Linked DNA regions of Homo sapiens: region 1 is linked to region 2. Evidence: fine-mapped QTL for protein levels in blood plasma. Region 2 holds a variant in brackets. A gene starts in the other region. All regions are shown on their forward strands.

Region 1 (12,161 bases), not on the chromosome of region 2:
AATCATCCAGGGTAAGCATATTCTCAGAGAGTTAACTCTGCTAACCAAATCTCAGATAGACTAAGATGAAAATTAAAAGACAGTGTATCCATTTACAATGAGAACCTTTTCAGTGACTAGGATGATTGGTTTTGGTATCCAAGTCACCCCTTTCCCAAGATCAGATTGCCTAGGAAATTGAATTAGTATCAGAACAGTACCTGGTGAGCAGAGTCAAACGAAGGACCCTTCTCTTCTTGTTTTAAATGAGGGTTCTGCTCAGGGTAGAAACCTGACAAATGTGATCAACATGGAAAATCATTTAGAAAAAAAAAATCAAACTTTTAGAGACAGTAGCAAGCCCACTATTACTTATTTCACCCAAAGCCAAGACTGCATGTGTCATTTGAATAAAAATCTAAATGATAACTCTTTTTATATATTTCTCTCAATTTTTGCAACGTTTATGGTATAATCACGTTCCTAGAATTCACTGATCTGAGTATAATTTTGAAAGAAAATGAAAGTTAAGGAAGTATCCCGCTTTAGTTTCCGTTTCAGTCGCTATTGATTTATCTTTAAGCCTGTGATTATGGCATCAGGCCAAAAAAGACAACAATGAAAAAAGGAACAGTCTGCCCTGACAAACTAATGAGCACAGACGAAGGCAAAAATGCTTTCCCGGAAACTGTTATGCTTAGAAGAAATTTTCTAAAAAGTGAGCAGGAGGACATCAGTGATTTCTGTGGACTGGGAATCCCCTCAGCTGGTGCAGAATATGCCTTGGAAAGTATGGGAGAGCAGGGCAAAGCTTCCCCTTCACAGTTTTCACTCTGAGCTCTCAAAAGATTCCCCGAGCTCACAGTGTTTGGTAATACTGGTTACATACTTTTCAATTACCCATGTGTCTCATCCTTCATAGCCAGCCTAAGCAGAGGGCAAACTGAGTGCTGGCAAAGTGGGTGGTAGACCCTAACAATCATCATGGCATTGGAGGAGGCAGAGGCTCAGAATAGCTTCTGTTTGGATACATTTTAGGCTATGCAGTGTTTCTGAACTCGCGCACTTGAGAGGACTTTTACAAATATGGCAGATTTCATCATTTGGAGGAAGAGACAAAATTGGAGGACATTATAATAAAGTAAATGTGTTTGGGGGAAGTATGGTGCATTTCTTTCTCCTTCCCATAAATAAGATATTTCAACAAAATAAATTAGAATTTTGTGATACTTTGTTCCATTTTTAATCAAAATCTTTAGAAAATGTCTAGTTTTAATTTTAATTGATTCATCATTGGTTGTCTTTTCTTTTGAGAAGAGGAATCTTGAGATATGATATAGTTCAGTAGTGCCTGTTATTCCATATTTTAGATTATCATTCAGTTTTCTTCAACTTCTTATTGACAGTTTGTCTTTGTGAACAATTTGAAGAAGAATGCTAAGTCAGGATTTATTATATAGAGTCTATAATTCACGTTAGGGCATTTCCAATTTAGTAGCAGTTTATTGAGCAGCACTAAGGAACTATGAATACATCTGTACTTATGGTGCCAGGATTTTTAGGACGTATTCTTCTTAGGTACTTAAGTGAAACTATGGTTTCAGTGTTATGTGATAATCTCAGACTTGCTCAATTTCATTACCAGTGTCTGGTTAATAAAATTTGCAGACAAGGCAAGAAGAAGCAACTAAAATTGCCTCATTCACCCCTTCTCCAAAAAAAACCCTAACAGTTTTTTTTGTGTGTGTACTACTTATAATCCACAGAATGTGCTGACCATATCATAAAGATTTATAATTGTTGGCTATGAAAATCTTTTCAGAAATAGATACAAAGAGGTATATTAATTCCATGTGGGCATATTAGGTCCTGTACTCAGTAGCCAAAAATAATTAAGTATAATCTTTCCTTTTCTAATAGCATTATCCAAAACTACTCCATTTGTTTGAAAGCTCTTCTTGGCTAATTAGAGGAAACAGTCCTGAAATTTTAAGTCACTGTGAGTGTTTGGCATCTTAAGTTCCATGTATTTAAAATCGAATCTGCAGTTTTTTCTGCTAAACTACATCTTCCCCCTCATATCCCTATTTCTGTTAGTGACAGAACTATTCTTTCAGACCTCAGAAGTTCAGCCTTTTTTCCTTGTCTCTTCTCTGCTTTAAATTCAGACTCAAATCCTTAACATGTTCTTTGTTTCTTTTTTGCATCTTCAACTTTCTTTTTCTGAGATGGAGTCTCGCTCTATGTAGCCCAGGCTGGAGTGCAATGACGCGATCTCGGCTCACTGCAACCTCCACCTCCCGGGTTCAAGCGATTCTCCTGCCTCAGCCTCCTGAGTAGCTGGGATTACAGGCATGCACCACCATGCCCAGCTAATTTTTTGTATCTTTGGTAGAGACGGGGTTTCACCATGTTGGCCAGGCTGGTCTTGAACTGCTGACCTCGTGATCCACCCGCCTCGGCCTCCCAAAGTGCTGGGATTACAGGCGTGAGCCACCGTGTCTGGCCTCAGCTTCAACTTTCACATCCAATCTATCACTGTCTTGATTATTTTTGTACAGTGTACTTGTCATTATATTTCTACTCTTACCAATACCACCTTAGTGTAGCCCTTCTTCTTTTTATGATAGTAAAATACAAATAACATAAAATTTACCATTTTAACCATTTAAAAGAGTACAATTCAGTGGAGTTAAGTACTTTCACAGTGCTGTGAAGCCATCACCATAATTTAGTTCCAGAACATTTTCATCACCCAGAAACTCCATACTCATTAAGTAGTTACTCCTCATTAACACCTCCCCCAAACCCCAGTCAGCTAATTTGCTTTTTGTTTTTATGGTTTTGCCTACTCTAGATATTTCCTATAAAATGGAATCATACAATATGTGGTCCCTTGTGTCTGGCTTTTTTTACTTAGCATATTTTCAAGGTTCATCCATGTTGTAGCATGTATCAGTACTTCATTCCTTTTTATGGCCGAATAATCTATTGTGTGTGTATACCACATTTTATCCATTCACTTGTTGATGGATATTTGGGTTGTTTCTGCTTTCTGGCTGTTGTGTATAATGCTGCTATGAACATTTGTGTACCAGTTTTTGTTTAAAGAGCTGTTTCAGTTCTTTTGGGTATATACCTAGGAATGGAATTGCTGGATTATATAGTAATATATAATTACTATAATTATGTTTAACTTATTGCAGAGCCAGCCCCATTACTTTTCACACCAGTGTTTCCCAAAGTGTGGGACACTACCATGTACATTGATAATAACGTTTAGTATCAGTGAATTATTCTCTTCTTAACTTCAATCCCTCTGATTAATTAAATCAGGGGGAATATTAGTATTTTTTCATTGTATTTTGTTTTATCATTACATTTTATTTCCATGGCATGTATTACCGATTTTACATGTACAGTAGTGAAAGTTTACTTTTCATGTAAATGTACGTAAAATAAAGTGGTATACAGAGTTTCTAAAAATATAATGAAGATCAAACAGAGAAATGTTAAAAAAAAATTGTAAAGATGATATGAGAATGCCTTGAAGTTTTGGAAATACAGACCTGAGATATTGCAGCTATTGCAGCAAATCCCAACTGATTTTCCTCCTCCACTCTTTCCCACTTTCAATCAACCATTCATGCAATTCCCAGAATATTTTCCAATGACTTTGATAGGGTCACTCTCTTCTTCACAAACATTTATTGAATCCCCATTTTGTACAGAGTAAAATTCAAGGTTATTTACAGTTTCATGTCCTTCATCCTTCCAACCAAACGAATCTAATTATGATTCCTAAAAATCACTTTATACTTCCTACTACTGTACATTCCCTTGTGTCATTCCTCTGCTGTAAATTCCTTTTCCCTTAGTTTATATTGCCATTCAATAGGGTCTGATATGCACCAGAAACTGTACTGTTGGCCTGGGCTACAGCAGCTTTCTTTTACACTTATGAGAGAGCAGATATTAGGCACAGGAATAATTCATTAATTACAATTGCAGTAAGTAGTATGATGGAAAAATAGAGAGTGTTATGGAAATAAATAAATAGGACACCTAATCTAGTTAAAGCTGAAGTGGTGGTTTCAAAGGCTTCTTGGAGAAAAAGTCATTTAAGCTGAGACCTAAGCAATTAGTAGGCATTAGCTTAGTGAAGAAATGGGCAGAGAGAATAGTATGTGCAAAGGTACCAAGGTGGGGAGGATCTTGGCTCAAATATGTTAATTATTAATATTTCATATATTTATTTTGCTATGAAGAACTTTAGGTGTATGTTTTCTTCTCAGTAATAATGTACTGGCCTATAATATTTAATATACTTCTTACAAATACCAATTTATCATGCAGCCTTAACTCTGTGAATTTTTTTTTTTTTTGAGGCAGGCTTTTGCCCAGGCTGGAGTGCAGTGGTGTGATCACAGCTGACTGCAGCCTCAACCTCCCAGACCCAAGTGATCCATCCACCTCAGCTTCCCAAGTAGCTGAGGTTACAGGCATGTGCCACCATACCCAGCTAATTTTCCTATTTTTTATAGAGATGAATTTTCGCTATGTTGCCCAAGCTAGTCTTGAACTCCTGGGCTTAAGCCATTCACCTATGTTGGTCTCCCAAAGTGCTCAGATTATAGGTGTGAGCCACCATGCCCAGCTGACTATGTGAATTTTTATTTTTAAAGAGACTTAAAAAAAAAATCACTGTAAGTAGTCAAAGATTAGATTCAAGTCTTTTTTTTTTTTTTTTTTTTGAGGTGCAGTTTCACTCTTGTTGCCCAAGCTGGAATGCAATGGCATGATCTCAGCTCACTGCAACCTCTGCCTCCCGGGTTCAAGCGATTCTCCTGCCTCAGCTTCCTGAGTAGCTGGGATTACAGGCACGTGCCAGCAGCCTCGGCTAATTTTTTGCATTTTAAGTAGAAATGGGGTTTCACCATGTTAGCCATGCTGGTCTTGAACTCCTGACCTCAGGTGATCCGCCCGCTTCGGCCTCCCAAAGTGCTGGGATTACAGATGTGAGCCATCGCACCCAGCCAGATTCAGGTCTTAAAACTATCCAGGGAATTTATATGGAAGTCCCATCTCTATATAGATATTTATATAGATTTATATAACAATTTATTATAAATCTATATTGTATCTATAACCTATATAATAATGCAATATAGATATATCTGATTATAATCCTATAATAAATATTTTTATTTTTCAAATGTATGGGTGCCTATATAGAGAGTACTGCTATCAGTCAAGGCTTTTGGTTACATGCAGAGAAACCAACTCTGGCTATCTTAAGGAGAAAAAGAATTTAGTTGGAGGTTGAAGAATCCACAGGACAATGGAGAATAAGTCTTGGAAAATGGACAAAGACCTAAGGGAACTAGGTGATAGGAAGGACTAGCCAGAGTCATGCTACAGGAACACACATTGGGAAGACACTACTGTAAGACTTTCATTGTTTCTCCTGCTGCTGCCAGGCTTGAAATAATTTTCTTACTAATAGTATCTTTGTGATGCCAGCTGGAGTTCAAAGTCTAGGGTAGAAACAGCATGGCTGAGTCCTTGTTGTGGCTACAGGAGAGGATCTCCTGTCTTTGGCTTCTCTCTTTTGGCCTCCCACCAACACTCACATAAGGGATTTTCTCCAAGTAAGAAGGGGGTTTGGACTATCAAGACCCCCCAAGGCCGACAAAAGAAACAACTGTCTTTCCCACCTACCCATTAAAATATATTTCTAAACAGTTTTTCATGATGACGGATAGGTGTATGTTTCTGAAATATAAGGCAAAATTGTTAAAGGCATCTCAAATGTCCTGGAAAGTATATAGATCTTTTTTTAAAAAAGAAAGGTTGTGGTAGTTTATTAGAGAAAAAAATGACTTTGATTCTTTAAACTAGTCTTGAGTATACCTAAATTTTACAGTATATAGGCATGAACAAAGAAATTGATTAGATTATGTATTTTTCTAAGAGACAGAATTACAAAAAGTAAAAGTGATTGCTAGGTATACATTTGCTTATTTTTCAACATTTTTCTTTGGTAGACAAAAACATTTTGTATTTCAGATGTGTCCAAGATATTGCTATCATTTATACAAACGGATCAAAACAAAAAGTACAGTAAACACACATATCCTAATTGCTTCAAAACATCTCAATGAATAAAAGTTGAAAAACATCAAATTAAGACTGGTGCTACTAATTTGGTTATGAAATATGTGCACTTTTGCCAGTATCCCATAGCGTATAATTTTTTTCATAGTACATTTTATGAATTACATTTAATGAATTGGTTATAAAACAAACCAAATGATGCATAAGAATGTCTCCCTACATATTGATGTGCTACATGATGTTTGGGGAAAGAAGTGTGTATTTGCATGAAAAAATGTTTGAGGAATGTTTTACGACACATAGATGCTTTTGACTTATAAGGGCTTGACTCCAGTAATAATGTCAATGTCTCCACCGTAACCACAGATAGTAATATAGCATAAAGATCAATACAGACAGATGACTTCTAGAGACAGAAATGTTCTCATAGTCACAACAGAATAGTTGTAAGCATCAAATCTAGAAGGTTCTCTAGCCTAGAAATGCATGAATGTATAATGCAACAAGTAAGAACGTGAAAGCACTTTGTAAACTCCGATGGTAACCAGCCTTTCTTAAGGTAGCTTTTCCTAGAAATCCATTTAATTGTTGGACTCCTTTGGGCAGTGGAATTCTGATTGTCATTCATTCAGGAAGACTGTATTTCTGTTTTTGGTCCTTTCACCCACCTTTCATCCTTCACATAACTGTACAAAAGTTGAAAGTCACAAAACCATAGAAAAGTCTCAGTTTCCTACTGTAGAATTCTTGTCATTTCAGTAGTCACAGTTAAACTTGTTCTAGGTTTTTCAGATGCTCTTTTCCAGGACTTCATATGTTTTGATATTTTTAAAAATTCTTTCTTTCAACTTTCTGGAATAAGAAAACAAGAGTTTTATTTACTTGGGCTGTTCTTGTTTCCCCCAGGACATCTAAAAACATGTAGTAAGAAGGGGAAGCTGTTACAACCAAGGACCCCTTAACAGAATATTTCACACAGGATCATAGCAGAATCTTTCTGTAGTTGTCCACATTATTTTCTTTTTCAAAAGATCTGTCTTGGATAAAACAGATTATAACATGGGAGTAATTTGGTAACTTACTTTGATTATAAGCCTTGCTTGCTTCGATTTGGGATTTAGGCATCGTTGTCCTTTATTTTCTTTCAGGGTAATACTGTTAAAAGAACATACAAGAGTCTTAAAGTTTAGATGCAAATACATAAACAAAAAAGCCTGCACCATTGTCATCTTCAGCAAGTTCATTACTTACATCACTTCTATTTTGTCACAGTTGTTACTTGGGTACATTATGGAGGCTTTCTCAATATCTGCCACTTTCACTGCTTTTACCCCAGGGCCTATGCAAAGACAGCGTCCTCTTTTGAACATGGGGAAGCCTAGAATAGATCATAGCATTAGTTAGTAATGCATCTGATTGCAACAGATGGCTGTGGTTTATAGCTGGTGGTGAACGTGAGCAGAATTTTCATTAAGGGTAAAGATAGTAATTTGTCAAATAGCACTTAACACAACTGTTACTGGGAAAAGTTAAGTAAGATGTTGATTATTTTCTCATTAAATTAGTAAGCAAATCGCTAACAAATGGGAAGCATGAAGGAAGTTTATTGGAGGTGAAGCTTGTTTTGCCCCCTTGATTTTATCCTCAAATATTTTCCCAGGAAGCTTGTTAACATGATCGCTATATAAAATCTTCTTAACAGACATTTAAAACTGTTGCTAAAGGCTTTTGCCAGATATTCTAGCCAAATCAAAAATTCCATGAAGTTCATAATTTCTAGTTTCAATAATCATCTCTAGTATCTTAAACATGTCCACCATTTCTGTGCTAAAGCTGTAGTAACTTCTAATCTGTGAGATTAAATAAAACTTTATCATGTCTTTTAGGATAAAAGTGGAAGAAAAGACATTTGAAACATTAGAAAAGGAACTTATAGGTTGAGAAATAAAAATTACTGCATACCTTGAACAACTGTAGCACACAATATCACAGCCAAGGCTATAGCCATGCCCTTCACACTCATGTTTGTTTTTTGCTGTTGCTGCTGGTGCTGCTGCTGCTACTTCAGCTTTGCTGCTCTTCTTGGAAGGAGTAGAAATGCTGAACATGAAAGGAAATTGATAATTGGCATATATAGAGCATTTTATACACCAGCAATCCTTTTATGGCACAGGAATTTCCCTCTTTGAGTCATGCACCTTTCCTGCTTCCAAGAGTTTCTGTTTTGTTCTCTTCTAAATGTTACTGTCCCTTCCTATTTGCAGTAGTGTTGAAAGTGATAAGAATGTGAAAGCACTGTGAAAACCCAGATGGTAACCAGCCTTCTTAAGGTAGCTTTTCCTAGAAATCCATTTAATTGTCGGACTACTTTGGGCAGCGGAATTCTGATTGTCATTCATTCAGGAAGACTGTGTTTCTGTTTTTGGTCCTTTCACCCACCCTTCATCCTTCACATATCTATACAAAATAATATTCTGAAAAGCTTTTTTTTATTATCTCACTTTTGCTTTTCAGTCCAAACTCTTATAATAGATAAGGCCTATATTATTTGACACCAGATGACCTTTATTCAATTTCATATTTTTACCTGTAAATGAGTGCCTAAAGAAGTTTCCCTGTGTTTCTGTATTTATGTCCATATTGTTTTGCATTTTCAACAATTTTTACTTTATATATTTTATTTTGTTTTGCTTTATTTTATTTTTAAATTTAATTTAATTTTATTACTTTATTTTATATTTATTTTATTCTGCAAAGCTTTCATTATAGGCAGATGGCAGGGGGCTCAGTCCTTCTTGGCAGCTGCTTTCCTCATGGCAGCCAGGACGTTGCTCAGCTCCTCCTGCCTTCTCTTGGTGCAGATGTTTGTCCCTACCCTTTTCTTGATGAATTTGAGGGCCTGTTTGACCTTGGAGACCTTCAGTAACTCCATGCCACGCCACTCGTTAGGGGTGAAGCCACACACCTCTGGGATCATGTCCCACACAAATTTAGTGAGTTTGGTCAGGCGCCCACAGTGGCTGTGCCTGGGCTTGCTCACATTCTTGGTCACCTTGTGGCCCTTGTTGAGGCCCACAGCTATAGGGTAGTGCAGTGTCATGGCTGCTGCCCTCCAATGGTGGCCATGGTGGAAAGCTACTTTATATATATTTTAGCACTGTTACTTAGTACATGAAGTTGTATGAGTTGTATTAGGGATCATAAAAAAAAGTGATCCTCTTTGCTCATGTGATAGTTTTACCTCTGAGATTCTACTTTGATGTAATTCCTATTTTTTTGTCTTTATCTTTTCCTCTTAAGCTTCCTAAATCTTTGTTTTAAGTGTGTCACTTGTAGATGTTTAAGAAAATCATATCAAAGGAGCTTTCTAATGGGTAAGCTTAATAAAATATATTTACTGTATAACTGGTAATCTGTAATTTTTAAAATGCTTCCTTGCTGATTCTTTATGTTTTCTTTGATTTCTTTCTAACTTTAAATATATTTTATTTAACTTTTTGAAGCCATTTTTGTTTTTTTTAATGAGATGGGTCTCACTCTGTCACCATTCTGGAGTCGAGTGGCACAATCATAGCTCACTGCAGCCATGAACTCCAGGCCTCAAGCAATCCTCCTGCCTTGGTCTCCCAAAGTGCTAGGATTACTGGGATGAGCCACGGTGCTTGGCCTTCCTTAAGTAATTTGAAAGGAATACATTGTTTTACATTTTGATATTAATTCTTAAAATTCTTTAAAAAGATTTTTACCTGAATTTTTCTAATTATTTACATCAACCATCAATAATATTTTTTTAGCTCCTGTCTTTGTAACATGAGAAAATCACTGTAACTTTCTTTCAAGAATTTTCTCCTATTTCCTAGTTTTACCAATAAAAGTTGGTATAATCGGGGAATTTATAGCCAGTTTATTACTTTTAGATTATTATTTTATCTTATTCAACTTCTTTTTTTGAGAATTATCATTTGCATTTTATCTTGAAATTATATATTTATTTAGATATAATCCTGCATTTAAATTCTTTAACAACCATGACTAGTCTTTAAAACCTTTGAAAGTCTTTACAGTAGTCCCCCATTAAATGAGAAATTCTAGAAATAATTCATAAGTTTTAAATTGTGCACTTTTCTGAGTAGCATGATGAAATCTCACATCATCTTGCTCCATCACTTCATCCCATCACATAGACATTTTATCATTTCACAGCATCACTAGAAGAGTGAGTATAGTACAATAAGATATTTGAAGAGAGAGAGACTACACAGTCACTTAACTTTTATTACAGAATATTGTTGTAATTATTCTATATATTAATGTTGATGCTCTTACTGTGGCTAATTTATAAATCAAACTTTTTTATAGGTATATATGTACAGGAAAAAATACAATATATACAGGGCTCAGTACTATCTGCAGTTTCAGGCACTCATTGGGGGTCTTGGAACATATCCCCCAAGGATAAGGTGAGGGGGCTACTGTATTTTAATTAATTTCCAAGTAGCTGGAATATTCTTTCCTTCTTTTCCATTAATTCATTTAACATATGTAAAGAAAGACTAATTTTCCCTCAGGAATATGGGTAAAGTAAAAGGAATGTGTTCTTGGAGCTCATAAATCCTTATCTGTTATTATTTTTTAATGTTGCTTTTCATTTTCTCAGCATTAGAAACACAGTAGAGCATAGTTGTTAATAGGGAAGGCTCTAGAGTCAGCCTGTGTTCAAATCCACCCTTGATTATTTATTTATTTATTTATTTATTTATTTATTTATTTATCTTTGAGATGGATTCTTGCTCTGTAGCCCAGGCTGGAGTGCAGTGGTGTGATCTCGACTCACCACAGCCTCTGCCTCCTGGATTCAAGTGATTCGCCTGCCTCAGCCTCCCAAGTAGCTGGGATTACAGGTGCGTGCCTCCATGCCTGGCTAATTTTTATAGTTTTAGTAGAGATGGTGTTTAGCCATGTTGGCCAAGCTGGTCTTGAACTCCTAACCTCAGGTGATCCTGCCGCCTTGGCCTCCCAAAGTGCTGGGATTACAGGCGTGAGCCACTGTGCCCAGCCCACATTCAGTTATTTATGAACAAGTTACCTCAACTTTTTGAGGCTATTTTCTCATCTATAGACTGGGGATAATAATAGTACTTTTTTTTTTTTTTGAGATGGAGTCTCTCTGTGCCACCCAGGCTGGAGTGCAGTGGCATGATCTCGGCTTACTGCAACCTCCGCCTCCTGGGTTCAAGCGATTTTCTTGCCTCAGCCTCCCAAGTAGCTGGGATTACAGGCATGTGTTACCACGCCCAGCCAATTTTTGTATTTTTAGTAGAGATGGGGTTTTACCATGTTGGCCAGGCTGGTCTCAGACCCCTTTTTCATAGGGCTGTTATAAACTAGGTATTAAAAGAGGTAATGCATATTAATCATTTAGAAAAATATGTAGCACTCAAAATGTATTAACTGCTATTATTATTATCAGTGTCCTTTCCTGAATTGGCATACCACATCTAGCTTGTTTTCAGCTGTTTTTCAGCATTAACACAAACACAACCACTTAATAAAAGATGAGTTGACATTGTTATAGCATATAAAAATATTTTAAATTATAATAACCATGAATATAAAAATAGCATACTAATCATAAAAATCACTTACAGAAAGTGCATGAATGCAATAGCATAGTTCAAATAATATAGACAAACAATAGTGAATATTTCTGCTTACTAGCTAAAGTGTTGTCATATAGCTTTGGTGTAAGACAATTTCTTAAATAGGGATTCTTAATTTTTTTAAAAAGACCCTGGAAATTATTAAACATATTTTTACATTATACTATTTTAAATAGAAAATAGACATAATTCAAATTTACATAAAACAAGACTAAACTCTTCCTTTTGCCTTCATGTGTGAATTACTACTTAGCTGTGTAGAAAAACTGTGGATCACAATTTTCTCCTTCAGTACTCTGCTGGGAGTCTTGGAATGTATCCCCCAAGGATAACAAGGGGACTACTGTATTTTATTTTCTATTGTTTTATTTTCTTCCTTACTGCAAAGGTAATATCTGATATTTT
Region 2 (12,651 bases):
TATTGTGAACATGAGCGTGAAGATATCTCTTCAGTATACGGATATCCGTTCTTTCAGGTATATACCGAAGCACTGTGATTTCTGGATCTTATGGTAGCTTTCTTTTAATTTTTTGAGGAACCTCCAAACTGTTCTCTATAGTGGTTATACTAATTTACACCAACAGTGTACAAGGGTTTCCTTTTCTCCACATTCTTGCTGGCATTTATTATTGCCTGTCTTTTGGATAAAAGCCATTTTAGCTGGGGTGAGATGCTATCTCACTATAGTTTTTTATTTCATTTCTCTAATGATCAATGATGTTGAGCACCTTATCATATGCCTATGTGGCATTTGTCTGTCTTCTTTTGAGAAATGTCTATTCAGGCCGGGCGCGGTGGCTCACGCCTGTAATCCTAGCACTTTGGGAGGCCAAGGCGGGTGGATCACGAGGTCAGGAGATCGAGACCATCCTGGCTAACACAGTGAAACCCCGTCTCTACTAAAAATACAAAAAAATTAGCCAGGCATGGTGGCGGGCACCTGTAGTCCCAGCTACTCGGGAGGCTGAGGCAGGAGAATGACATGAACCCAGGAGGAGGAGCTTACAGTGAGCCGAGATAGTGCCACTGCACTCCAGCCTGGGCGACAGAGAGAGACTCCGTCTCAAAATTAAAAAAAAGAGAGAGAGAAATATCTATTCAAATCTTTTGCCCATTTTTTGATTGGATTATTAGATTGTTTCCTACAGAGTTGTTTGAGCTCTTTATATATTCTGGCTATTAATCTGTTGTCAGAATGTTAGTTTGAAAGTATTTTCTCCCATTCTGTGGTTTGTGTCTTCACTTTGTTGATTACTTTTTTTGCGGCACGGAAGCTTTTTAACTTGATGTGATTCCATTTGTCCATTTTTGCTTTGGTTGCCTGTGCTTGTGGGGTATTACTTCAGAAATTTTTGCCCAGACCAATGTCCTGAAGAGTTTCCACAATGTTTTCTTGTAGCAGCTTCATAGCTTGAGGTCTTAGACTTCAGTCTGTCTCACTCTGTTGCCCAGGATGAGGTGCATTGGAATGATCTCGGCCCACTGCAGCCTCCACCTCCCAGGTCCAAATGATTCTCCCACCTTAGCTTCTGGACTAGCTGGGACTACAGGAATGCACCACCATGCCCAGCTAACTTGTGTATTTTTTGGTAGAGATGGGGTTTCACTATGTTGGCCAGGCTGGTCTCGAACTCCTGACCTCAAGTGATCTGCCCACCTTGACCTCTCAAAGTTCTGCAAAGTACTGAGATTACAGTCATGAGTCACCCTGCTCAGCCAGATTTCAGCCTTTAATCCACCTTGATTTGATTTTTGTGTCTGGTGAGATATAGGTGTCTAGTTTCATTCTTCTGCATATTGATATCCAGCTTTCCCAGCACCATTTATTGAAGAGATGTTCTGTTCCCCAGGGTATGTTCTTGGTAGCAGTGTCAAAAATGAGTTCACTGTAGGTGTTTGCATTTGTTTCTGGGTTCTCTTTTCTATTTCATTGGTCTATGTGTCTGTTTTTATACAAGAACCATGCTGTTTTGGTTACTGTACCTCTGTAGTATAATTTGAAGTCAGGTAACATGATTCCTCCAGTTTTGTTCTTTTTGCTGAAGATAGCTTTGGCTATTATGGGTCTTTTGTGGTTCCATACAAATTATGGGATTTTTTTCTATTTATTTGAAGAATGTCATTGGTATTTTGAGGGATTGCATTGAATCTGTACATTGCTTTGAGTAGTGTGGACATTTTTAACAATGTTGATTCTCACAATATATAAACATGAAATATCCTTTTTTGTGTCTTCAATTCCTTTCATCAATGTTTTACAGTATTCATTGTAGAGACCTTTCTCTTCTTTGATTAAGTTAATTTCTAGGTATTTAGTTTTATTTGTGGCTATTGTAAATGGGATTACTTTTTTATTTTTGCCAGATTGTTCACTATTGGCATATAGAAATGCTACTGATTTTTGTATGCTGATTTTGTATCCTGCAACTTTACTGAATGTGTTTATCAGTTCCAATAGTTCTTTGATGGAGTCTTTAGGTTTTTCCAAATATCATTTGGAAATCGTTTGCAAGTCATTTGGAAATGTCATTTGGAAGTCATTTTCAAGTATCATTTCCAAAGATTACTTGGAAATTATTTGAAAATTTTCTTGCTTCCTGGCACAAAATGTGTCCTAAACTTATCTTGAACATTCTTAATTCTTGCCCTGGCATCAGCCATTTCTCTAAAGAGCTCTGGTTCCCTTCAGTGGAAAATGGTATTCATAAGCCAAGATCGGGGCACTAAGTGTGTTCATTGCTATTGAAATGTCATTGTTACCTAGCCCTATCAGTGGAGAGAAGTAGGGAATATATGTTTTTTGTACACACACACAAATACAGACATACATTTACATCTATCTATCTCATTATCTGTCATCTATCTGTTACCTATCTATCATCTATCTACCCATCTATCTATCTACAAGGGTATGAATATACACGGTTACATCCATTCCAATCTAATTTCATAGGATTCATGCTAGTTTTCTCCCTTTCTGAATCCATGACTCCCTTCTGCAAAGGTGAGAAGCCTGGCTTCTATCATCCTTAATACATTTACTTATTTGATCAATCCCCTTTATGTAGCCAAACCTCACCCAACCCCTCCCACTCATGGATGCCCTCCTCGCCTCATGTGGGTTCTCCATACCCTATTTAGGCTCTGGCTGCTCTTGCAAGCCACCCCTCTGCGTCGACCCCTTCTCTGCTTGCTTGGACTCCCACACCCAGGCCAGGATGTCTCTCCACATGAACCTCCTTGGTCTCTGACTTGGAGCCACCATGACTCTCTCTTCTCTACCTTAATGTGTGGCCACCATCTGGCTGCCACCCACCTAATGGCTTTAGGACTAAATTATTCAGGAAGGGAAAATAAAGGAAGAATTTGGAAAAGAAAAGGAATGAGTGCTTTTAGGCTTATTGCTCAATCAATTGACCAATCGACTGTTTTTTATTAAGTGTTCATTGCATCGAGACAGTTGGGTGTTGAGGATGGAATGCAAGAGGTGTAGGGAAACATGTTTTCTGTCTCCCAGAAATATGAAAGGAGATGGGCTGAAAACATTAAATCAAAACTAATAATATAATAAGAGCTTCAGTTCTTTGTTACAAAATGTACGTGCTTCAAAAAGGCATATTTTTTTAAGACTGAGTCTCACTCTCACCCAGACTGGAGTGCAGTGGTGCAATCTCAGCTCACTTCAACATCCGCCTCCCAGGTTCAAGTGATTCTCCTGCCTCAGCCTCCTGTGTAGTGAGATTACAGGCGAGTCCACCATGCCTAGCTAATTTGTGTATTTTTAGTAGAGATGGGGTTTCAACCATGTAGGCCAGGCTTGTCTTGAACTCCTGACCTCAGGCGATCCACCCGGCTCAGCCTCCCAAACTGCTAGGATTACAGGCGTGAGCCACTGTGCCTGATCAAAAAAGGCATAATTAAACTATGAATATTCTTTCTAAACAATGGGCAAAGTCACAGTGGATTAACTTTCACCTATGTTAATAATCAAATTCTAGTTCTGACAAAGGCCCCACGCCAACAGTGATTACAATGACCAAAAATATTTACTTGTTGGTTCTCATTCAGTTCTATAGATTTCTCCTTAATGTGCAGGAAAGCATCTGATAATACTTTTGTAAAGTGGTCTTTATTGATTTAACATAAAACTTATAGAATACTCCAGAGAAAACATGTGATATAAATGTCATTGTTAGAGCCATCAAAATAATTCTTATTTTCATTAATAATTTGTGGAGGAAATTATTGAGAAATGTTGATTCTCTTATCAGAGCTCAGGAGGAGTTAATGGTGCTAACTGGGGGTGGTGGAAATAGTCCCGTGAGAAGCAGAGGAGCCAAATCTACCTCCTCACACTGATTTGGTCACCTCCTTTATATTCCCAAGTATAACACTCTACACAGACAATGAGAGAGCTCAATGCATGTACAGAATCCCCGGTTATTTATGCAGTCCATTGGATGAAGCCCATCTTCATTTCAGAGTTCTATTCACAAAGTAATTTGAGGTCTCTGGTGTTCTCAGGCACAGATTTCTTGAAGAGCAAAGCAGAAGTCCTTAGGAAAATTCAGGCTCCACTTACGGTGCCATCCCTTGACTCAACCTTTAGAACAACGGGTTTTTCTGGTTGAAGAAGTCCTCCTAAGCTTAATTTCAGGGGGATCTGCAACAGTTAAACAAGCATATTGAGAAGCATTAAATAAACAAAAGTAGAAAGTATAGCATCAAAGTGAGTGAGACACTCCTTCAGTGTTGAGGGGACACAACAGAGTGATATTCTGATCTCTATGGAGTAATGGGCAAAAAAAATGCAGTAATGACAATAATGCTTTGTAAACATATAAAAACTACTTTCAGCACTATAAATCTTGGATTCTTTATACTTAGTCTATAAGATGTGTGAAGATTGGACAGTGAGAGCATTCATCATCTATCATTTAACAAAATATTTATGGAGTACTATTCTGTGCCAGGCCTGAGACAAATTCATGGAAACCTGTGTTCTTTTTTGATTTAAATTTTAAGTAAAATGGATGAGTTTTTAAAATTTAAACCAGATTATTAGGTATGATGGCAAACTGTTTTTGAAGAGTCATATAAAGTTAATTTTGTGTATGTTGAAACTTGCAAGGTAAACCTGGGTAGTTATTGTACATTTTAATTATATGGACAGTCTTCAACTTCCAGAGTCCAGTAATTCCTCCCAATTGAACCCATCCAGTGTAAAGATGGGAAGACACCTTCAGGAAGCATTACCATTTTATTTTTTAACATCTTCTCTTGGCTTCCAAGGGTAGTGCAAGTGGGGAACCTCTCAATTCCTACAGTGTTTGGACTCAACTTTTAGCCCCATTCTTATTGAGACACTCCTTCCGTGTTGA[G/C]GGGACACAACAGAGTGATATTCTGATCTCCATGGAGTAATGGGCAAGAAAATTGCCAGGGAGATCAAGAAGTGCCAGGTTGGGAGCTTACCAAGGAGTACCTTCCCCATCCCAGGTGTGCCAGAGGACCACTTTTATTCAGGGCTGAGTCCCCTGTCTGGGCACATATAATACAGCTACACTGCTGGCCTAAAGCCACAAATAATATGGAATATGGAAATAATATGGAAACTATTTCTGTCTTCTTCCTCTCCTATATAGAAAGCCTACTTAAGGGGTGGAATTGAATAATAAATACATGAGACCTAGAAATAAGATTTATAGGGTATTGTTTAATATGAATCAATGACGTCTGTTCTTTAACTTCTTCAGAGAAAATATTTCAAATCTTTCTATAAATATAATACCTTATTATTTAAAAATTTTCAAAAACCCTGAATATATTTTCACTGCAGACAGACATGCATGCCCACATGTGCACACACACACACACACATGCATATGCACGAATGGCATTTGTTTAAAGGTTCACATTAAATAGCTTAATATATGTATGCAAGCCATCAACTGCACATCACTCCTTAAACATTTACCAAATGCTTGCATTAGATACAGTCCCTTGCAAGGCACCACTGGGATATTTTAAAAAGGAATAAAATGAGAGGATATTGTTAATGGAGGGGGGAAGACATTTTAGATACAAAGAAAATATAGAGAATAAAACTCAATGATTTAATGGCAAATTGTCAAATTTATGATAATAGCCTCCAGTATCCAATAACAGAGCAGAGAAGTAAATGGGCCCTGGACTAGGAGGAGAAGACACTTTGGAGGGGCTTGGGGATTGAACTAGGACTTGAAAGATAAGAACAAAATGAGGAGAAAGGGAACAACATTTTTTTTTTTTTGAGACAGAGTCTCGCTGTCACCCAGGCTGGAGTGCAGTGGCCCAATCTCGGCTCACTGCAGGCTCCGCTCCCTGGGGTTCATGCCATTCTCCTGCCTCAGCCTCCAGAGTAGCTGGGACTACAGGTGCCTGCCACCTCTCCAGGGTAATTTTTTGTATTTTTAGTAGAGACGGGGTTTCACCGTGTTAGCCAGGATGGTCTCGATCTCCTGACCTCATGATCCGCCTGCTTCGGCCTCCCAAAGTGCTGGGATTACAGGCATGAGCCACCATGCCTGGCTGGGAACAACATTAATAGAGTTATAATTGGGTTGAAAAGGAGCCCAGCTGGATGGAGCTAGGCACCTGGAAGGTGAGGTCAGTCAGGATGGCCTTGGACTGTGGTAGTCCTTTATATCCACCAGAAATGCCTTAAATTAGTCATTCTCAACCTTGGCTTCACATGAGAAGCAATGGGGAAGCTTTTAAAGCCACACTCTGGGCAAATTAGTTTAGAATTTCTGTGATATCCCAGACATCATGAATTTTTAAAGCTCCCTGGTGATTCCAATGTACAGCTAGTGGTTGGGAGCCACTCTCATGAGAAAGCTTCTCCAAGTTCTGGTTGGGAAGAGCAGCATTCAAAAGTCACAACAAGGTAATCATTACACTTCATGACTGTGCAAAATACTTCCCCATCTTTCCAATCGACTTGAAACTGAATGTAAACTTTGCTCAAGTTCAAGGAGACTGCAGATAATTATGCCATGCTAATCTACATGGGCTTTACATGATGTTTTTGATGCTACAGCTTTTGAACTCCAGAACTGAAGCACCCTTAAAGATCACAGATGGGCCTAATTGATTCTTTGGCCCAGAGAACAAATTAGTAAAAGATTAAACAAGCATATTCTTTTTAAAAAATACAGACCACTCAGTTAAAAGAATTATTAATACAACATTATTTTTATAGAAAATTGACTAACCTGTGTTTCTTTACAAGGTTTGAAGGAGAAGTTCTGAAGGACTCTGATTAGAGCAAGTTTCATGTTCATGAGAGCAAACCTCATGCCAATGCAGTTTCTGGGTCCACTTCCAAAGGGTGTGTATATGTAAGGATCTATGTTGTCCTTGTTCTTCTTGCTGAATCTGGTTCCACGTTGGTAGATTTTTAAAAAGTTAATGACATAATACCCCTAAGAGTTACATGTTAGGGTTTCTTACTTAGGGGCCACCCCTCAACTAGTAGTACACAGGATACTTTTGTGGGCTGGTCATTGAAATCCTGCTATGCTTATTTTGCTATGAGAATTGTAAGCTACAGATCCTTTCTACTCTCCTGACACTATAGGAGCTTTCAGTCTTGTTGAGATGAGATAAATAGTGTTGCAAAGAATACTTATTTCTAAACACTGAAATTATATTCAGGGTGGTGATGTGTCCACACTATAAAAGGCACATAAGTGATGGGACTGACTGATGGAAAAGTAGGTTCCTGCCTCAAGTCACACTTACATTGGTCATGAGGAAGGAGAAGGGGAAATTGTCTTGTACTATTTCAAAATTGTTATTTTGCACTTTCCTTCTCATCTCCTCTCTTGTTTTTCTAATTCTCCTCCTTCTCCTCCTTACCTTGTCTTCTCCCTCCTTCTCCTCCTTCTTCTTCTCTCCATCTCTCCCTCTTTCTCCCCCACACCTCCATAGAATAGTTGAAGTCAGATAATTTACACAGGCATATGATGCTACTGTACCGATGTAATGCAGTATCATCACTGCTTTCTTTGTCTATCTGTTCCAGTAAGCTATAAAATTCTTTGAAGATTAGATGCATGTTTTTTATTAAAATGTTATTCCTAAATATTTGATTATATTTATGAAAAAAATATTCATTTGGGGGACATAATAATAGCATTGTGATCATGTGTTTTTAAAAGAGTCCTTACATTTTGGACACTGATGACCCATAAGGACATAACTGATGACCTTCATCGTAAGTTGTTGGAATTGTGGATGACTGTAGTTTTCTTTTTTCTAGTCTATGGTTTGTAAAGTGTGACAATAATCAATTTGATGATTAAAAAAATCTCTAAATATAAAAATACAAGCAAATAATTATACAACCACATGACTGTCCTGTAGATTAAGAGAGGCAGAATATGCTTGAACCAGGCTGGTTCAGGGAGGGCTCCCTTCCCAGGGGCCTTGTACCTTTCAGGGAGGAACTTCTCAGGCTCTGTCCAGTACTTTGGGTCACGGTGAAGAGCATAGCTTGGAATCATCACCACCACCCCTTTGGGAATGAACATCCCATTGATCTCAACATCTTTTTTGCAGACCCTCTCAAGTCTCATAGCAATTGGGAATAATCTGAGCGTTTCATTCACCACCATGTCAAGATACTCCATCTGTAGCACAGTATCATAGGTGGGTGGTGCCTGGAAAGAACGAAACAGATTTGGATAAATTGAGATTTTGAATTAACTTTTAACTCAGTCCATGCAGTACTAATGAAGTATTAGGAGCTCCAGAGACTAACTCATACTGGTAAAGGATCGAAGCATTTATAAAGTGTTTTAATAACTGTCATGCCCATTGCTGTGCTCAGTGGCCCACTGAGATGTGTGGAGGAGTTATGAAGGTGGGAAGCATTCGGGAAGGCTCTCACCCCAGGGACTGAAATCCTTAGCATAACCGTGTATATATGTCTATATATATATACACACACACATACACACACACATATATATGTGTATATATATGTGTATACACACACTAAAAGGAGGACTTTTGTTATATACAGAAAATGTGGAGAGAAACACTATATTATATAAAATCTCCATAAATAATTTGAGGATAAACTAGTCCCTTTCTATCCCAAAAATGACAAAGAAGGTTCTGGTTGGATGTAACCAGAGAACACGATTTCAGTGCTAGTGGAAGTTATAAAGAGGATAGAACCCCACACAGCCCTGTCCTCACTTGCTGAAACAGTCTCCTAGTTGTTGCTTCAGGGCTGGACTGTAATCTCTGAAGAACATCCCTTTGTGTTCACCTCACTGCCACAGCCGGGCCAGCCCCAAAGCCGTGTCTCTTCATACCACAAAGAATCCCAATTTTGGCAGAGGTCTGAAAACAGTGTGGGTGATATGCACCTAGTATTTGGTGTTATATTTGGAAGGCAATATGATAGTGTTTTAAGACTTTAGCTCAGGAGCCAGATATCCTGGTTCCTAGCTTGGCTTCTTCACCAGTTACTGCCTGACTGGAACATGAGATAGGTGTGGGGAGAGCTGAGTCAGCCTGCACAGCACACCCAGGGCCAGGCTCCGTCAGACTACAGCCAGACCAGAGCAAGTCCTGCCAATATCAGCAGAGCTCACTATCCAACTATGATGTGTGGAGGAGTTATGAAGTGGGGAGACATTCGAGACGGCTCTCACCCCAGGGACTGAAATCCTTAGCATAACCGTGTACTGGTTTTTCTTTCTCATTGAAACAAATGTGACTAATAGGCTATGACCACTAGCATCAAATAACATATGAGAAAGTGATTGTTACCTTTCAAAAAAAAAAGTCACATGTCTGTAACCAAGAAAATAAAAAGAGATAAAAAGAGCAAATTCCTGTGTCCATATGTGGATACAGCTAAGGGGACATCACACACCACTATGGTGCCTGCTGCAAACATGTAATTCACAACCAAAACCAATGTGAAATGAGTGTGAGCAACAAATGCTTATTGTTAGATGCCACTGAGGTTTTTGGAGGTTTTTTACTTAGCATTATTGTAGTAATAGAAAGCAGATGAACCAGAGCCAGCACGTTTTACAAAGATCTTACGCTTCTGCCAGTAGCAACCATTTGCTATGTTTCTTTCTTTTTCTTTTCAGAGCCTTCCTACATAGAGTCAGTGAAAGAATCAGTGATTATGCTTTTTATAAAAATTCTCCTGGGAAGTGGTGAGGAGGCATTTTTGCTAAGGTTTCACCTCCTCCCTCCTTCTCCATGTACCATCCACTCACCTTATTGGGTAAAACTGCATCAATTTCCTCCTGCAGTTTCTGCTGGACATCAGGGTGAGTGGCCAGTTCATACATAATGAAGGAGAGAACACTGCTCGTGGTTTCATAGCCAGCAAAAATAAAGATAATTGATTGGGCCACGAGCTCCAGATCGGACAGAGCTGAAAGGAGAGGAAAGACATTTTAGGTAAATCAGATCAATGTAGGGCATCACAGTTTAGATGAAGAGAAATCTAAGTGAAGCCCTCAAATCCCTAAGGGAAAAGAATAGAAAAGCAATTCAGAGGTACACTGGGGGTGGTTTCATTCTGATGTGTATCTTACAGAACCAGAATAAGGCAAATCATTTTAATCCAGTTTTCCCCAAGGTCTTCGAGAATGTGGGCCATCCACTCCTCCTCATGCCACCCCCGCCACCTGCACAGCTGTGTAATTTCCAGAGAGAGCATTTCCGCATAACATACTCAGTGTTATGGGTGTGTTCCTTGAATGATCCTAAAAGTACTTTATTGTAAGTTAATATGAGGTAGTACTCTCCCCCAAGAAAAATGTAATTTATTTTAGCTACAATATATCTTGACAAACTTTGAGAGAATTTGCAACACTAATGGTTAAATGTAGGGAAAATCAAAGGACGTTTCCCGAAGATATGTTTGAGGGAACTTAAGGGACCAATATTGGTCTACAGACCACTTCTTGGTATTCAAAGTGTGGTCCATGGGTCAGAAGCATCTGAGAGCTCATTAGAAATGCAAAATCTCAAACCCCACCCTTGAACTACTGATTCAAAATCTGAACTTTCACAAGATGCAGTGATTTGTGTGCATAGCCTAGCTTGAGAAGCACGGATTATATCTTTGAGAGGCATCAGGTGATAGATCTAGGCTACAGTTCTCAGAATTGACTATCTCAGGATGTACAAGAATGAGAGATGGACAAAAAGCTAGATGAGTGGTAATTGATTGTAGTCTGATGGATGGCATTAAAATAGCATAAGCTCCTATGATTACAAGTTGGGCCCCTCTTGATTTTTCTCCTGAGAGAAGCTCAGGATGGTCCATCACTGGTCTGTTTGATCAGGACTGGATTAGGACCTTTAGAGACCTGGAACATAGAAATAAATATAATGCCTGCTCCAACCATGTAATTCACAACCAAAACCAATATGAAAGGAGTGTGAGAAAGGTCGACAGAGCTGTGATTTACCAGTGAAGACTTCTGTGATGCAGTTATAAGTAAATTCAACTACCTAATCATAGTATTCAGTTATCATGAACCTGATGATACTGATGTGAAATTGAACTATAATCTCAAAGTTTAGAGCTCTGCTGTCCAATATGGTAGCCACTACCCACTAGTGGCTATTTAAAATCAAATTTTATTAAATTAAACTGAAATACCATTTAAAATTGATCTTCAATGGCACTAGCCACATATCCAGTGCTCAATAGCCATATGTGTCTAGTGATTTCTATATGAAACAGTAAAACAATAGACTATTTCCTTTATCACAGCAAGTTATATTGGGATAGATAGATGAATAGTTAGATGATAGATAGATAATATATAAGTAGATAGATGATAGATGGATAAATGATAGATGATAGATGGATAGATGATAGATAGATAGATGATAGATAGATAGATAGATACATAGCTAGATAGATACATAGATAGATACATAGACATACAGACAAAAGTGGATGTAGACATGGATATATTTAAAGCAGTATGCTGGAGTAAGCCCAGTCCTGCTCTCTAGAACCAATAGTTAAATATTCAGGAATTTTGTGAGATGGTTGCCAAGTCTTGGTGGCTTGTAATTGACCATGGTCATCATTTTGCCACTGTCATAGTAATAGTGACTTCAGTAAAAAACATACATGGGTTGTAAAACTCGTAGGTGAAACATTGAAGACAAAGAGGATATTTACACGGTCTCAGAGGTTTTCCCCACAAGTTACTAATCCATTCCAAAGTGGAAAATAACTTTGCAGTAGATTAACCTGGTGAACACACTTTCAACAAGTACTGCCAGTTAAAATCACCCCTTTTGGAACAGCGTGGCTCCTGATTGGATGTTAGATGTATTAGGTAGCTGCAAAAGTTATTGTGGTTTTTGCCATTACTTTTAATTGCATTTTTTTGCAATTAAAAGTAATGGAAAAACCCACAATTAATTTTGCAGCAACCTAATAAATTTCTAGGCAGAAATTTTTATTCAGTGGATCTGAAGGAGGCTGAGAATTGGCATTTGATCTGATGTAGGTGATCCACAGACCGCAGACTGACTTTCTAGCATGCCAGGTTTGCTTAGGGTTGCCCTTTACTCTTAGAACATGGCTATCTATGCCTGCATGCCTCTAGAAAGTGCCTCCAACTACCACTTATAACATTCAAACATGTGTCGTTCTGCTATGTGGCAGAAATTCTCATCATCCTGGAATACTTCCTGCACATTTTCAGAACAAGGCCTTCCCTCTGAGTGCCCCACAAGTAGCCCTCAGAAACACTCTGGTTACCTTTGTGGGACTCAGTTTCTTTTGAATTCTGAGAGTCAATCATCAGCTGAAGGAAATCCACTCGGTGCTAGAAGCAAAAAGAGAAATTTCACTGACAGAAAGTGGCTCCTGAAGTCAGAAGTAAATCACAAGCGTGGTCCTTGATCTCCCTTCTGAGAATATGGCTCCTTGAAGACCAGAAATCTGATGCATGTTGCCTGAATCACCAGTGAAAAACATACCCTTCTAAATCCTTGGAAAGCAGGATGTTTTCCTGAA

Which allele goes with the higher level. Positions count from the first base shown, and alleles are read on the strand shown. Strength reflects both the effect of a copy and how common the allele is.
In carriers of allele G in region 2, the plasma level of the protein whose gene starts at base 8,202 in region 1 tends to be lower than with C alone (weak association).

The links. PIP is the posterior inclusion probability: the model's chance that the variant is causal. The UK Biobank Pharma Proteomics Project read protein levels with antibody pairs (Olink). The fine-mapping took linkage between variants from a reference panel, not from the people measured, so its PIPs are less certain.
Region 1: it holds the start of CXCL11, and the variant in region 2 is fine-mapped to the plasma level of the CXCL11 protein (UK Biobank, PIP above 0.99).

Annotation. Positions count from the first base shown.
Region 1 is chr4:76,027,869-76,040,029 of GRCh38, forward strand. It overlaps CXCL11 (C-X-C motif chemokine ligand 11), which reads right to left and starts at 8,202. Exons shown (of 4, transcript NM_005409.5): 1 at 8,059-8,202; 2 at 7,348-7,474; 3 at 7,179-7,251; 4 at 5,814-6,948. The coding sequence starts at 8,119. The coding sequence ends at 6,925. It also overlaps a transcript of ART3 not described here and the pseudogene RPL36P8.
Region 2 is chr7:99,753,984-99,766,634 of GRCh38, forward strand. CYP3A4 (cytochrome P450 family 3 subfamily A member 4) reads right to left here. Exons shown (of 13, transcript NM_017460.6): 9 at 12,394-12,460; 10 at 9,872-10,032; 11 at 8,058-8,284; 12 at 6,836-6,998; 13 at 2,984-4,245. The coding sequence ends at 4,150. CYP3A4-AS1 (CYP3A4 antisense RNA 1) reads left to right here and starts at 9,949. Exons shown (of 1, transcript NR_198962.1): 1 at 9,949-12,651. RefSeq lists an enhancer at 9,648-9,928. The variant G/C (reference allele first, on the strand shown) is at 4,964.